2 separate regions of the Homo sapiens genome follow, and region 1 is linked to region 2. A link means that fine-mapping ties the variant in region 2 to the expression of a gene that starts in the linked region. Tissue or cell type: subcutaneous fat. Region 2 holds a variant in brackets; the other region holds the start of a gene. All regions are shown on one strand. Distances are from middle to middle.

What was found. PIP is the estimated chance that this variant, and not a neighbour inherited with it, causes the effect. A credible set is the group of variants that fine-mapping cannot tell apart.
Region 1: PPIL3 starts here. The variant in region 2 is the best candidate, but not a certain one, in a credible set for the expression of PPIL3 in subcutaneous fat (TwinsUK, PIP 0.65).

The regions. Positions count from the first base shown.
Region 1 is chr2:200,885,502-200,893,784 of GRCh38, reverse strand. PPIL3 (peptidylprolyl isomerase like 3) reads left to right here and starts at 4,708. Exons shown (of 7, transcript NM_130906.3): 1 at 4,708-4,829; 2 at 6,100-6,172; 3 at 8,013-8,087. The coding sequence starts at 6,170. It overlaps NIF3L1 (NGG1 interacting factor 3 like 1), which reads right to left and starts at 4,414. Exons shown (of 7, transcript NM_001369441.2): 1 at 4,133-4,414; 2 at 1,406-1,867; 3 at 377-539. The coding sequence starts at 1,841. RefSeq lists enhancers at 3,631-3,880, 4,139-4,883, 4,771-5,020, 3,873-5,072, 5,141-5,190 and 1 more.
Region 2 is chr2:201,344,102-201,352,433 of GRCh38, reverse strand. FLACC1 (flagellum associated containing coiled-coil domains 1) reads left to right here. Exons shown (of 15, transcript NM_001127391.3): 2 at 983-1,142; 3 at 1,652-1,723; 4 at 4,132-4,180; 5 at 5,759-5,892; 6 at 8,171-8,264. The coding sequence starts at 1,030. Among named protein-coding and RNA genes, the nearest start is that of FLACC1, 9.1 kb to the left of the region's middle. The variant G/TTTTG (reference allele first, on the strand shown) is at 4,792.

The sequences.
Region 1 (8,283 bases), 460 kb after region 2:
ATATAAAAAAGCACTTGGGAATCACTGATTTGCTGGGAACCAATAAAAGCCTTATCACCACATCACTAGGATCTATCTGTATTCTCTAAAGTAAAAACAACTATCTTTGAACATTACCAGGATTAGAAATACTGTAGGTAAAATGCATAGTATAGTCCCCTGACATAGAAAATACTTAGTGTTACTTACCGTTTTTATTGTTTTGAAAAAATTCCATAGTTCTCCAGGACCCACAAACAAATGAGGAGTATGCTACTTTGTAAATCAACTCCAGAGAAAACTATTTGTTTCAAGCCTAAATACCAGGGTTATAGACTTTGTAAGGAAGATGCTTACCAATAAATACACACAAAAAAAAGAGAAAAATAAATTGTACCTAGCAGAAAAAGAAGTGACAGAAACACCGTCAATTCCTTTCACTGCAGACATGACTTTGTCCAGGTCTTGGGTGTAGTTAACGTTGAATTCTACTCGGTGGTTTCCCTCTGTAGGGTAGTTGGGAGCTTTGGAAGGATGTATGGGCCTGGAGGTACAAGCTCCTAGAGAAAATATTGTGGGAAAATGGGAGTTTTGGGGGGTGAGAGATTAAGATTTAAAAGTAAACTATTATAGGCAAAATTTCTAAGAAATGACTTTTTAAAAAGATTCATTCTCATGCTTACATAACATACACACATCCCTTAGATATACATCACCAGTCCCCATAATCTAGGGCTTTGGCATGGACATACAAAATCAAATTATTTTCAGAATTATTTTCCAAAAGATTCTTAAATCTCTGAAAAACTTGGACAAGAAAGACTGATTCATACATTTTCAGATAATACACAGAATGGTCTACTGCTTGGTAAATCTAGCCATGTAAACCATCATTCAGGTTGCAAATGCTCATACTTTATTTGACCACATTAATCCAGATATCATCATAAAAGCTTTAGCCCAAAATGAGTAAACTAAAGACTTACTAAAATAAAGCTAAAATCCATCCATCATTCCCTCATTGTGCTAGGCATAAGTAAACATTCACTAAAAACATTCATTAAAACCCTGATGTCTATTTACTTGACTTATCAATCAAGTGTATTCTGGAGAGGCCTGAGCTTTCAATTCAACAAGCATTTTCCAAGTGCCTGGGTGACAGGCATTGTGCCACAAAAGTGAGGAATCATGAAGCTCAGTCCAGTAAGGAAGACTTCTGCTCTCCTTACTCCATAAGAATAAAAAATGTTTCCTTTTTCAAATGCAATTTAACTGCCAAATTTCAGCAACATTATTTTAAAATTATTATATAAAAATGGAATCATGCCCTCCCCAACCCTAAAGCAGTTAAAACTTTACTGGAAAGACATCCTAAAGTTTCAAAGTATTTGCAGGGAAAATATCAAATATGAAAGAGGCTTCTCACCAAGCCCTTTAGCCAACCAGTTGTTGACGCCCTGGGGCGCAGCATCATAGGCTGTATGAGGAGAGTAGATACCGACTCTGTTCTCCAGAGCCCGGATCACCAGGCGCTCCTTCCATGTGTTCCAGGTTATGCGCTTCATGGGTCGGAAGATAGGCGGATGGTAGGAGAGAATGAGGTCTGCCTTCTTTTGCAGCACCTCCTCCATCACTTCCTCAGTCAGGTCATTGGTCAGGAAGAGTGTATTTACAGTATGTGGTGGGCTTGGTTCCACCAGTAATCCAACATTGTCCCAACTCTCAGCAAACGAGAGGGATGCAAAGTCATTCAAGGAAGAAAGGAGAGCCTTCAAATCCATGAAGGAACGGGAAGAATTGCAGATCAGGGAATCTACAAACCGGACTGTCGTGGGGACTGGGCGTACGCAAGATGACAACATACAGAAATCAGGTAAAGTTCAAGTTTCTGATGTCAAAACAAAGAAAATGGTACACAGGTATACTTTAGGCCTGGATCTTTGAGGCATCAAAACATATGGGCAAAAGAGCTGTCGTCATAGAGATCTGGGTTCAAATAGTGGCTCTGCCACTTACCAGCACACTGTAACTTAGGTAAGCCATTTAACCTCTCCAATCTTGTTTTCTCACCTACGAAACAGAGATACTATAACCCACTTCACAGGCCATCCAGAGGAGCTAATGAATTATGTAACCTAGCAAAGCCTGGTACATAATACACAAACGTCCATCCCATCTCCTGCCTTGCACACCCTTGTTCTTATTCTCCCTACCCTTGCTTCAACCAACCTCCTCCCTAATCCATTTCTCTAAATATTACCTTTCCTTTTCCCAAGCCCCCTCCAACTTCTTAAATAAAACTTTTCTTGACCTCCCTTTTCAGCATCCTTCCCAAGGCTCCCCACCCCTCAGTATTCTCATAATTCTGTGTGTGCCCATTATGCTAAAGCTACTATGTAATAGGAACTAACTTCAATAAATCTCAGTATCACTAATATAAGCCAGCACTAAATGCTTACTGCATAGAATGACACTGCCCGCCTCCCCTGATTGCAACAGAATTTGGAGTTGGGGTGGTATATACTGGCATTACAATGTGCTTTACCAAAAAACAGAATAATGTGGCGGGGCGCCTGTAATCCCAGCACTTTGGGAGGCCGAGGCGGGAGGATCACAAAGTCAAGAGATAAAGACTATCCTGGCCAACGTGGTGAAACCGTCTCTACTAAAAATACAAAAATTAGCTGGGCATGGTGGTGTGCACCTGTAGTCCCAGCTACTCGGGAGGCTGACGCAGGAGAATCACTTGAACCTGGGAGGCGGAGGTTGCAGTGAGCCAAGATCATGCCACAGCACTCCAGCCTGGCGAGAGAGCAACACTCCGTCTCAAAAAGAAAAAAAAAAAAAAAAAGAATGTTTAAAATGTCAAGTGCTTTATCAGAATCAAAAATCAAGGAATACATAGGCAGGTCACTCTATAAATGGGCAGGGTCAAGGCAGAAGAAGGGAGAAGCCACTGCCCCTTAAGCAACATTTGCTACACAAAGGCCAGGCTCAAGAGGTGGGAGGGGATAAGGTATAGGGTACTTTTCCCAGACAGCCTGTAAGCCTTCTAAGTATCTACATCCAACAAGGAACTGAAAAGGTTGGCAACAGAGGGAAGGTGGGAGGGCAATGGAAAGGTAGAAAAAAACTGCTGGCTCCAAAATATGCACAATTAGTAAATGTTTAATCAAATAACCACAAAAGATAATGCTGTCAACCCCATTCTTAAACTTACCACTTATAAACACTTTTTGAAGAAAAACATTTCATAGTATGCACAATAAGAAAGCATAGCCAACTGTAAATTTGATGAAATATCCATAAGTCAATTATTCCAAAAGCAATTTTTCAACATTTCTATTTAATGAGATGAAGATGCTTGTTTAACACATTATTTGAAGTGATACAGGGTCTCCAAAAACCACTCGAGGTCTTGGAAGTTTGTTTTTGTTTTTTTCTTTTTGACACAGGGTTTCACTAGGCGCCTAGGCTGGAGTGCAGTGGCGTGATCTCAGCTCACTGCAGCCTCGACTTCCTGAGCTCAAGCAGATCCTCCCACCTCAGCCTCCTGAGCAGCTGGGACTACAGGCGCTAAACACCACACCTGGCTAATTTTTGTATTTTTAGTAGAGATGGGGATTCGCCATGTTGCCCAGGCTGGTCTCAAACTCCTGCGCTCAAGTGATCCACCTGCCTCGGCCTCCAAGAGTACCGGGATTACAGGGGTGAGCCACTGCGTCCGGCCTTGAAAGATCTTCTAATGGTCCTCATAGTACTCCATTCTCCAGCATTTTCTACATCTGGCAAGCTCGAAAGTGAAACCCTAGTGGGCCATCATGCAGGTTTTGAGTTATTTACTGTTACAGATGAGGAAACTGCGAAGCTACATGGCCACAGTCAACAACGACAACAGAAGGCAACATAGTATGGCGGTTAAGAGCACCGACTCTGAAGCCAGCCTGAATCCTAGAGCCAGAGCTGTGCAACAGCAGGTAAATGACTTATCCTGTGCAGTTTCCTCCTTAATGGAAATAGTGCCCAGGCCACAATATCGCGAGATTTACACGTAAAGCTGGAAACAACTCCCGTCCTAGAGTAAGCACTGTTTACTATTAAGCAGCATCAGTAGGGCCCCTTTGCAACCTGCAAACCGCTCCCTCGACGTTACCTCATCTATGCCTCATTTCAGTGCCACTTCAGGCCTTTTCCAGGACAGTGAAAAACCACGAGACACAGCCAGTTAAGTCTGAGTCAGGACCCCTGTCCCACTAGTGCGCTGTGCTCTGGTGCGGCAGGGCAGTTTTCTGACCCAATCTCCTCTTCTGCTGTCCTCTGCAGCACCAAGATAACAATCACAGCCGGCCCCAACCGGCACCTACCGCGAAGGTCACAACTACACTCGCGGGTTTTTAAATCGCCCACTACTCACCAGTCCCGGAAACTTCTCTGCGTCACTTCCGGTCCCGCGTCGGCGCTCCGGATGCTGTGGCACTTGGCTCCCCGTAGCGGGAGAGCTGGGCGGAAGTGGTCCTTTCCGTTTGGCAGCCGAGTGTAAAGCATTGCTTGAGGTTGCCCAGGTAGTTTCGCCTTACACTTCTTGTCCCAGTGCAATTATTAGTAGAGCTCCCTTTCACTGTCAAATTTCCGGTTGGGGATAAATTGCATTGTCGTTTTGGTTTGAGATAGGAAGATGAGGGGAGGAAGGAGGTGAGGCGGTAAGGGGCGTTCTCTCTCTTGGGTCCCGCGCCCAACTTCCGCTGGCCCAAAGAAACTATAATTTTGAACCAACAGACCTCTGCTGGCATCTGCGATTGCATTTTTCCTGTTTTAACAACGGCTGTGCTAGACGAAGTGGTGAAGCCCAAGTATGGAGTAACGTCATTAATTCTTTCATTCACTTATTCGAATGCTTGCTGAGTTCTGTGTTGCTACTGGTTTAGTTCTTGGGATACTGCGAGTGAACAGTGGGCGGCGAGGCTGTTGTTGCAACGTCAGAGTAAAAGAAGGACCCTGCACGGCGGCCTCCCAGCACTTCGGGAGGCCGAGGCGGGCGGATCACCTGAAGTCAGGAGTTCGAGACCAGCCTGGCCAACACGGCGAAACCCCGTCTCTACTAAAAATACAAAAATTAGTCGTGCATGGTAGCGCGCGCCTGTAGTCCCACCTACTCGGGAGGCTGAGACACGACAATCACTTGAACCCGGGAGGCGGAGGCGGAGGTTGCAGTGAGCCGAGATCCTGCCGCACTGCACTCCAGCCTGGCGACATAGCGAGACTCCGTCTCAAAATGAAAAAAAAAGAGAAGTTCATAGTATATTAGTGATAAGTGCTGTGGTGGAAAAAAAAAAGTTCATAGTATATTAGTATAAGTGCTGTGGTGAAAAAAAAAAAAAGCGAATTTCATAGTATATTAGTGATAAGTGCTGTGGGAGAAGGAAATAGGAATGTCCTAGGGCTGAAGGGCTAAAGCAGTTCTGTGTAGGATTGTCAGGTCAGTTAAACTTGACATTTAAGCAGAAATTTGGAGGTGAGGAAATTAGCCGTAGAGATGTCTGAGTATAAGAATTCCAGGCAAAAGGGACACCCAATGCCTGGACCCTAAGGGAAGGTATCTGGGTTATTGGGGGACTTGCAAGGAGGCTCTTGAAGAAGAGCAAGCCGGGCAAGTAGGAGATTGGGAGGCTTGAATCGGGTAGGATATCTTCTATAGCCGGGTTTTTATTACCTAGGGGATGCCATTAGAGGATTTTTTTTTTTTTTTTTTTTGACGGAGTCTCGCGCTGTCACCCAGGCTGGAGTGCAGTGGCGCGATCTCAGCTCACTGCAGCCTCCGCCTCCTGGGTTCAAGTGATTCTCCTGCCGCAGCCTGCTGAGTAGCTAGGACTACAGGCGCCTGCCACCACACCCGGCTAATTTTTGTGTTTTTAGTAGAGACGGGGTTTCGCCATGTTGGCCAGGCTGGTCTCGAACTCCTGACCTCAAGTGATCCACCCGCCTCGGCCTCCCAAAGTGTTAGGATTATAGGCGTGAGCCACCACGCCCGGCGAGGTTTTTATTTAAAATGTTCAGTAAAGATGAGCGTGTGTGAGTTAAGACAGGAAAATGAGCCTAATTCTTTTTTTCTTTTGGGACTAGAGACTTATTTTTGAGCTCGCTGTAAGACTGAGAAATCACGTAGTCCTTCCTGAAACCACTAAGAGGAAAAATGGTAAGTTTTGAGCAATTTTTATCTAATGTCTTTCATTATAAGTAATTTTTAGAAATTCAGTCAAGGGCAATAAAAGTTCATGGAAATTGCAGTGGCAAGATGGAGAAATTGTATAATATAGAAGCACTTAATATGGAATAATTCTTTTAAAAAATACACAAAATTGCTTTAAAATTCTTTAATGTTGTCACTTAAAATGCACAGAATTTACCTTTTTTTTTTTTTTTTTTTTTGAGTTTCACTCTTGTCTCCCAGGCTGGAGTGCAGTGGTGTAATCTCGGCTCACTGCAGCCTCTGCCCCTGGGTTCAAGCGATTCTCCTGCCTTAGCCTCCCCGGTAGCTGAGATTACACGCGCCTGCCACCACGCCCAGCTAATTTTTTGTATTTTTAGTAGAGATGGGGTTTCGCCATTTTGGGCAGACTGGTCTCGAACTCCTGACCTCAGGTGATCTGCCTGCCTTGACCTCCCAAAGTGTTGGAATTACAGGCGTGAGCCAACTCGCCCAGCCAGAATTTACCTTTTATGGAGAAAGATTGATTACAAGATAGATAGAAATGGAAAGGGAGAGTTGAAGGAGCAGAAGAGAATAGACAGGTCTGACAATTTTAATTGGATTATTTTGCTCTAGATCTAAAGTGGGCAACTAGGCTGGGCACAGTGGCTGACACCTGTGATCCCAGCACTTTGGGAGGCGGAGGTGAGAGGACTGCTTGATCCCAGGAGTTCAACACCAGCTTGGGCAACACAGTGAGGCCCCCGTCTCTACTTTTAAAAAAACAATTAAATAAAGTGGGCAACTAGAACCTGAAGTAGAAAAAGGCAATGAGAATAGTGCCCTGCTTCTCCCACACACATCTTTAACCTGCTCATACTCTCTAACTGCTAGGCCAGGCGCGGTGGCTCACGCCTGTAATCTCGGCACTTTGGGAGGCAGAGGTGGGCCAATCACTTGAGGTCAGGAGTTCGAGACCAGCCTGGCCAACATGGTGAAACCCTGTCTCTACTAAAAATACAAAAATTATCTGGGTGTTGTGGCATATCCCAGTAATCCCAGCTACTTGGGAGGCTGAGGCAGGAGAATTGCTTGAACGCAGGAGGTGGAGATTGTAGTGAGCCGAGATCACGCCACTGCACTCCAGTGTGGGCGACAGAGCAAGACTCCACCTCAAAAAAAAAAAAAAGGAGAAATGAAAAAGGAACCCTCCAAATTGTTTTCTCCCTCTCTGGAATACAGTATCATATCAAGGGGTATACAGGTTACAGAAAAACAGGTACAACAAAAACAAAAAGCAAGCAAGAAAGCACTGTGGTTATCTCTGCACATTTAAGATTTAGAAACACTGACACTTGTTATATTTTTGTTAGTCGAGAAAGGAATTATTTTTTAACCCTATTTCTCAGAATTAAATTACCTAAGGAAAATGGTGGAAATTATGTTTTGAAAAATCATTTTCTCATCATTTTTCTATAAATAAGGATGTTGGTGAATTGCCATGTACATCAATAATACATAACAATTGTTTTTATTTTTCTTGATAAAAAATTCAAAGTTAAAATAATTCTTTCCATCAAAATATTTACTTCCAAATTTTTGTCATGGATACTACTTAACCCTAACATTTATATTCTGGAGTTTTTTCTCTACTGTTGGGATCAATTTTGAGAAAAAAGTACAACTTAACCTCTAAGAGCTGCTTTGTGGATGGGTCATCTCTGAAGCAGTATTTCTGTCTGTTTTTATTCAGATTATCATCTTGAATATCCACACAGGGAAATAAACAATGCATAAAGTCACCTAAATAAATTTCATTTGTTCTCACATTTTCTCTCCTTTTTAGTCTGTGACACTGCATACAGATGTAGGTGATATTAAAATTGAAGTCTTCTGTGAGAGGACACCCAAAACATGTGAGGTAAGTACTATTATTTACATATTCAACATCAGTTAATACAACAAGATAAGCACTTTGGAATTGAATAATCTAACCTAAATAACAACAACAAAACTTTCTGTAAAACCATTGTTAGGGAAAACTAGCCATCCTAACTTCTGGCCTGATTTCCACTTATTTGTCCAATGTCAAAGGTGGATCAAAGAGAACGTAGATA
Region 2 (8,332 bases):
GGAAAAGAAAGAAGATAAGCCAGTGTGGTCAAGCCACCATGTTTATCTGATAGTTTTCTTTCATCAAGATTCTCATAATAGGGGTTTTGTTTTTTGGGAGCCAGGGAAGGAGTTTCCACTCTGTAATTCAAGAAGGTGACCAGGAATGAGAAACGAGGAGATTCATTTGCACTGTAGCTCAAGCAGCAGAACTAATTTTCCAGGAAGTTCTGTGCAGAACTTGCTGTGGGAATTTCTCTTCCCTTCAGTGAGAACTGGTGTGGCCTGCTGGAAAGGAAGGAGCTTGGGAGTCAAAGAGATTTGTGTTTGTTTCCAGCTCTGCAACTTGCTGCCGCCGTGACTTCTCTGAGTCTCAGTAGCTTCATCTATAGTATCAGCATAACAATAATTGAGCAGTTTTACCTGGCTCACAGCAAGGACTCGGCTATGGCAAATTTTATTTTATTTTAATTATTTTGTTTTATTTTTATTTGTATCTTATTTTATTTTTTGAGACGAAGTCTCACTCTTCACCCAGGCTGGAGTGCAGTGGCACAATCTCAGCTCACTGCAACCTCTGCCTCCCAGGTTCAAGCAATCCTCCCACCTCAGCCTCCTGAGTAGCTGGGACTATAGGTGTGTGCCACCATGCCCAGCTAATTTTTGTATTTTCAGTAGAGACGGGGTTTCACCATGTTGGCCAGGCTGGTCTCAAACTCCTGACCTCAAGTGATCCATCCACCTCGGCCTCCCAAAGTGCTGGGATTACAGGCGTGAGCCACCATGCCCAGCCAGTTATGGCAAAGTTTAAATTGCTTTCAAGTCAAGTCTACTGAGTAGAAAGGGATGAGCTGTTAACCTATAGTCAAGACCCTGCACCAGATCAACAGCTTCTGGAATCTACCATTGTTCTTTGGGTCCTCCCTGGGTTCTTCCCAATTCTTCTGTATTTTTGCTTTGATTCTAAATGGTTTAACCTTCTGCTGTTGTTTTTCAATTTCAGCAAGAGCCTCCTGATCTAGCAGCCAAGACTCCCCCTGACCTTTGGCCATGTACCCCAACCCTCTCATCTACTGCACCTGCTGGGACCCCTGGAACTTGGGACCACGGAAGCTAATCAAGACCCCTCAACTACCACGCAAGAACTCCACAGGGAGTTCCAAGTAAGAATTATCTGGGATGGGGTAGGCACAGGGACCTTGGGATCCATTTGTAGCCTCATTTCTCTCACAAGATTTCTAAAACAGCAAGTGTGGCAGGAAAATCCCAGGTGGGCCAGAAAGCCTCGCTTTCCCCAGCTTCCCTGCCAGCTGGTTGGCTGCACCCTCATCTTGCCAGCCCTGCCTGGGGTTTGTGCCATTTTAAATGAGGAAGTCTCAGTGTTGGTGCAACGGCAAAGTGCAGCTTCCAACCAAAGGGCCCTGATGGCAGCTGCCGCCTTCATGTGGGATAAAGAGCTTTGGGAATCGGGGGACAAACTCTTCCTGGGACAGTGAACAAGTGCCAGGGCCTTGGGCCTGAGTTTTAAAGGCCTCAGATTTTAAAGATTCCAGCTATCAGATCATGCATTCCAATTTTGGGTCACTATAGGGATGTACTTAATCTGGGAGTGTTAAAAAGGGTTTCCGAATTTCCAATGTTCTTGTTTTAGTTATTTGTTTTTCACTTTCAGGCTAACTCCTCTTGTACCAGCTCCAAAAAATCACAATTACCTCCAACCAACAAAACCTGTTGTTTCCCCAAAGTAAGTATTGTTTTGTTTTGTTTTGTTTTTGAGATGGAGTCTCACTCTGTTGCCCAGGCTAGAGTGCAGTGGTGTAACCTTGGCTCACTGCAACCTCTGCCTCCCAGTCTCAAGCGATTCTCCTGCCTCAGCCTCTCGAGTAGCTGGGAATACAGGTGTGCGCGCCACCATGCCTGGCTACTTTTTTGTATTTTAGTAGAGACGGGGTTTCACCACATTGCCCAGGGTGGTCTTGAACTCCTGAACTCAGGCAATCCACCCGCCTGAGCCTCCCAAAGTGTTGGGATTACAGGTGTGAGCCACTGCACCAAGCAGTTTGTTTGTTTGAGATGGAGTCTTGCTCTGTCACCCAGGCTGGAGCGCAGTGGTGCCATCTTGGCTCATTCCAACCTCCACCTCCCTGGTTCAAACGATTCTCCTGCCTTAGCCTCCTGAGTAGCTGGGATTACAGGCACCCATTACCATGCCCACGTAATTTTTGTATTTGTAGTAACGACGGGGTTTCACCATGTTGGCCAGGCTGGTCTGGAACTCCTGACCTTAAGTGACCAGCCCTCCTCAGCCTTCAAAGTGCTGGGATTACAGTCGTGAGCCACTGTGCCTGGCCCTAAGTATTTTTATGTCCATGAGGCAGAAATGGTTTCAGGCATGTGAATAAAATAATCTCCCTCTCACCTGGCCTGACTTGAACTAATTGATGCCAGGGATGTTAGAGAATTGCCAGAATCGACCTTGATTTCTTGCAAACCTCAGATCCTACATGTAGATTTTGGGGTCCTCTGCATCCACAGCTTCCAAAGTCATTGCATTGTTTGATTCAAAGTCACTGTATCCACTGCTCTCCACAGGGGTGCCCCCAGTAACTGTCTTCTGCCCTGGAGCCCAAAGCTTGATGTGTGCTATTGTCACAGAGCCTTGGCGACCCTCCCGTGCATTTAGGGTGGTGACTCACTCTTTAGCTGATTACTGTCCTGTGTCTAAGATTTTCTATGGGTTGCATCTTGGTTTTAATCACAAATTAAAATTTTTACTCGCATTTTACAAGCTTAGAAATGTACCTTAGTTTTAGGTCTTTGTATGAATCTTTGTATTCCATTAATTTTTTTGGAAAATATTTATTGACCACCTATTATTTATTAGGCACTGTTTCAGGTGCTGGGAAAAGAGCCAGAAACACAATAAAGTCTCCACTCTCCTGGCACTTATATTCTAGTGGGGAAGGAAGGGGAAGAGGACCATAAACTAGTTATTACATCCGAGGTTGGCAAGTGCTACATAGAAAAAAGATGCAGGCAAAGCAGGTAGGGGCTGTGACGGTGGGGATACTTTACGTAGAGAGGTCAGGGCAAGTGCCTGTGTAAAGGGGGCAAAAGGAGCCTCAATGATGCCTGGGGCAAGCACTCTTGGCAGAGGGACCAGCAAGTCCAAAGGCCCTGGGGTGGGAACTTGCTTGGCATGTCTGACCTCTTCCAGGAAGGCAGAAGCCAGTGTGGCATGAGCGGAGCGAGTGAGCAGGGAGTGGTGGGAGATGAGCTCAAAGAAGGTAACAAGGTGATGGGTGTGGTGGGCAGGACAGTGACCCCCTCCCAAGGACGTCTACACCCTAATACCCAGAGACTGTGAATATGTTACTTGCCAAAGAGGAATTAAGGCTGCAGATGGAATTAAGGTTGCTAATCAGCTGACCTTCAGTTGGAGAGATTATCCTGGATTATCCCAGATCCCATGTAATCACAAAGGTCCTTCTTTGTATGTGAAAGAGGAGGTCACAGTGTCAGAGTCAGAGAAGGAGCTGTGACAACAGAAGCAGAGGTTGGAGTGATGCAATTGCTGCTGGCTTTGGAGCTGGAGGGAAAGGCCACTGTGAACATATACACATATGTGGTATTCATTTTATATATAGCATATATAAAGATTTGAATGAAAAACAAGTTTAACTTCAACATTTGTATCTTAATGGGATACATTTCATTTTCTGGAACATTTGTTTATATAGAATGTTTCATTCTCCAATAAAGAGAGTTCCACACAGTTCCCTGAACTGAGTGTGTGTGTGCCCGTTTGTGTGTAAGGGGGTGGTGGGGGGTGTCACCTGACTCACAGAGCCTTGACTCAGGGAGAATATGTAGGGGTCCCTCTAGCTGGTTTATGCTCCTCCAAAACAGAAGTTGCCCCAACATCATAAGACAAGTCTTTTGCCTCCTTGGGCAGGACCTTTTCATGAGCACCCCTACTTTGGGGCCCTCAGGAGCCCGGCTTCAGTGAGTTCCCCAACTATCCTAGGGATCCCCTAAGAAGGTCAGGTCAGAGAGCAGAAGTCAGATGGTGGCGGCCTCAGGGTTCAGCTCCTAAGCTTTGAACTTCTCTTTGCTGTCTGGTTGCTTTCTGAGCATGTCTTTCTCTTGCAGAATGAAAATCCATTCAGCAAGGCAAGAAGAGACTAATAAATCATTTTATGTGAGTAAAGGCAGGAGAGGGCGGTGGGACTAAAATTTATTGAGTGCCTACTATGTGCAAGCATGGGCCCTTTACATTTTTATACTTACCTTGTCGAATCTTCACAAAGATCCTGGGAGGAGGTGCTGTTAATATTGCACATTATGCACGGCAGGTAAGTGGAAGAACCACGACTTGAACTCAGCTCAGCTAGATTCCAGAGTGGGCATTTAATTGCCACTCTCTCCTGCCTTGCACAAGACAAACAGAGTGTCTCAGAGAAACTGGACATGACAGCTAGTCCAGGCCAGTGAACAGCTCATGCCTAGATGCAGGAAGTGCTCTGCTGACCTAGGGAACTAACGAAAGCTGGGGAGAGGCTGCCGGGACCCCTCAGGGGAGCAGGGGCGGGAGGGCACTGGAGAAGGTGATGAGAACCAAACTCGAAGGCTCTTGACGCCTGCCTGGGAGTGTGGGCCCGACCCTTCTGGTGTCTGGGAGCCTTTACTGGTCTGACGCAGGCACAGGACCAAGTAAGAGTTACATTTCAGAAAAAGCACCCTTTGGTGGGATGTAATCGGTACATTTTACTGTTTTCTGTGTTTATCTAGTTTCTTTTCTTTCTTTTTTTT[G/TTTTG]TTTTGTTTTTTAGTTTTAGGTCTTTGTATGAATCTTTGTATTCCATTAATTTTTTTGGAAAATATTTATTGACCACCTATTATTTATTAGGCACTGTTTCAGGTGCTGGGAAAAGAGCCAGGGAAAAGAGCCATGCAGTCCTTTAATGGTTAGGGAAAAAAATATACAAGCAAAAATATAATTGCCCTCTAGGTAGAGAGGAGGATGAACTGTGGGGGGAGCAAGACTGAAGGCAGAGAGGCCAGAGCCCAAGAGAAAGATGATGGTGGCCTGGGGCCGTCAGGCAGGGGTGTGGAGAGAGGAGGGTGACTCACAGAGACATGAAGGAGGTGACAACAGCAGGGATCAAGGGGCTGCAGCATGTGCTGCGCAGCTCTCAGAGCCCCAGCCTTGCCCTGGTCCAGGCCAGCAGAGGCCCTGCCCAGGTTTCTGACTTGGCGTCTAATGGGAAAAGGAGGAGGAAATGACATTTTGTTTGCAACCGTCCTAGTCATTTTCTCATATGTTGTTTTGTTTTTCCCTCACAAAAGCCCTTTGAGAAAGAGTTATTAACCCCACTTTCTGATAAGGAAACTGAGGCACAGAGATGCTGGATGGCTACTGTCTGGTGGCAGAGCCAAGATTTACTCAGGCCTCTGTGATTCCAAAACCCGAGCAGTTGCCGCATGCCCACCTCCTCTGGGCTCTGGCCACGAGGGTGAACACAAGTCGGGGGCAGGGGCATCAGTGGCTTGGTTTGGCGCAGAGCTTGAGAGGCCCCTAGGGACACCCAGGAGCCTGCTAAGCATCAGATTTGAGTCGGAGAGATGTGAGAATGAGCTATAATGGGTGAAGGGCCCAGAAGGGCTTGGGCTGTGGAGTCCCAGGTCCCTGTTTTTAAGATGTGAGTGAGGCAATAAGAGAAGATTTGGAAAAATCTCAGCACTCCAAGTCTGCCATTTTATCTTACTTTCCCTTGATGCCTAGGAAGTGATCAACGTGTCACCTGGCTATCAACTTGTTCGGAATCGGGAACAGATTTCTGTCACCTTAGGGGATGAGATGTTTGATAGGAAAAAGCGGTGGGAATCGGAGATCCCGGACAAAGGCAGATTTTCCAGGTAATGCTGTTGCAGCAACATGCAGCTGCTTGGGGCTACTCCCACCCAGCTCAGCCCGGCCTCAGGGACAAGCCAAAGCCGCTATGCCCACACCCAGGCCACTGGTCCCTGCTCTGGAGGGGCCGCAAGGGCACCTCCCTCCTCGCCCCTGCTTCCTGATGATGCATCTCTCCACATCTGCCTCTCTGCTCTGATCCCATCCGTGAGCAGATCCAAGGGGCAGGATGAAGATTGGGAGTTATGTGATTGATCCCAAAGGATAGCAATTGTTCGTGGGGTGAGGAATAGATAGAATAGCCATAAATTAGTCTGAATTTGAGGCATGCAAATTAAGTAAAGTGAGGGTTTCTGGGTGGCTGGAGTGCACTTTTTTTTTTGAGACAGAGTCTCTCTCTGCCACCCAGGCTGGAGTTTAGTGGCACGATCTCAGCTCACTGCAACTTCTGCCTCCCAGGTTTAAGCTATTCTCACGCCTCAACCTCTTGAGTAGCTAGGATTACAGGCTTGCACCATGACGCCCGGCTAATATTTATAGCTTTAGTAGAGATGGGATTTTGCCATATTAGCCAGGCTGTTCTCAAACTCCTGACCTCAGGTAATCCTCTGGCCTCAGCCTCCCAAAGTGCTGGGATTATAGGCGTGAGCCACTGCGCCCAGCCTCTTTTTCATTATGTCCAAAAATACTACTCAGCTCATGCCCCCGGGAGATGCAGTGTGGAAGGTTCTGGCCTGACTCTAACCCATTAGCACAGCTGTCCTGTCTGTCTTCAGGCTCCACCCACTCTCTGTCCTCCAATGCCATATCAAGTATATCTCCATGTCTTTCTTTTTTCATTAACAGATGCAGATTCATCTCTACATCTTTTCATTCTACCCTTTAATCTCTTATTCATATCTTCTTCTCTGATATCCTGCCCATGTTCAGGCATCTTACTTCTTAACTGCACTACTGAATGGCTCTCCAAGTGCCTCTTCCCTCAGGCTGATTTTGCTGTAAGAATTATTTTTTCAACACACAAGTCTAAAAGACCAACAATAGAAAACACACACACACATACACACACACACACACACACACACACACACACACAATCATCTACCTATCTGCTAGTGTATTGGCAGAATTCAACCAAACCGTTAGCAGTGGTTACATCTGGGGAAGGGATTCAGGTTGAGGGTGAGTCTGAAGGCCCCTCAAGTAGAATGAGGCCATGCCATGGAGTCTCCCTGATCTGACCTGGCCCAGAGGGCCACCCAGGGGCCAGGGGCATTCACCCTGCTTATCTTGTCTTCCCACCCAGGGGCATTCAGCCTCTGCTTTCTTTTCCCTGCTTATCCACAGCCCTCTGCAGGAAGAGAATGGGTCATGCACCTATAGTCAAGCTAGCACCGACAGCCACCTCTTGGCCTCACAAGGAAGTTGTCACCAGTTGTGCACAATAAAATATGATAACCTGTGCTTGTTGTATTCCCTGGTAAAGTTGTGGGTGTTGTTTGTATTGAAGATTGTGTTCAAAAGATAGGGGCTCCCTATTATTCAACTTTCTCAAGCCTTTTCTTTCTCTTACCCTTGAACTGTCTCCTCCTGTATCTCCTCTCTTGTTTTATCAGCCCACATTCTCTCTGTGCTCAGTTAGACATGCAAAGTGGTTGGCCAAAGAGGTCAAAGCATCTTGCATTGAGGACTTCCTCTCAGCTCCACTGCACATGGCACCACCTGCTGCCTTGTCACTCTAGCCCAACCAGACAGAGCTAAATAATTTACAGATACCATGGCAGCCTTAGACCCAGAAACACAGAAAACCATGACCTGTGCTGAAAGCCACTCTCTTAAATACCCTCTTAGTCCCATCTCTGGCCCAATCCTTGTCTGTGGTTCACAGCCAGCATCAATCCTATTGCACATCTTCTAATTTCCTAATCCTCTGAACTTCGTCCTCTGTTTCAACTATCATTACCAAATCAAGGTCAAACTCTAATAAATTTCTGACATATTCTTATTTTCCTTCTATTCGGTAGGGCACCAAACCATCCTGTTCAAGTCTAGTGAGCTTACCCACAAGAGCCAGATCTGAGCCTCAACTGCCCTATAGCCAAATGCCTTCTGTAAGACCACCCCTATCCCTCCACCCCCACCCCATAATGATAGAGCAGGTGCAGAACATGGCCAGCTCTCACCAGGCCAGCTCTCACCATGCCAGAGTCAGTCATGCTCAGGGGCCTGAATGGCATGGAATGGTAAGCTTTGTGGATGATAGAAGAATTACTTCTCCTACAGGACCAACATCATTTCTGACCTAGAAGAGCAAATCTCAGAGCTGACAGCAATAATTGAACAAATGAACAGAGACCACCAGTCTGCCCAGAAATTGGTGAGTGACCTTACATTAGCTAACATCTTCATGGACAAAATAAAATTAATATTTTTGAATCACCTATG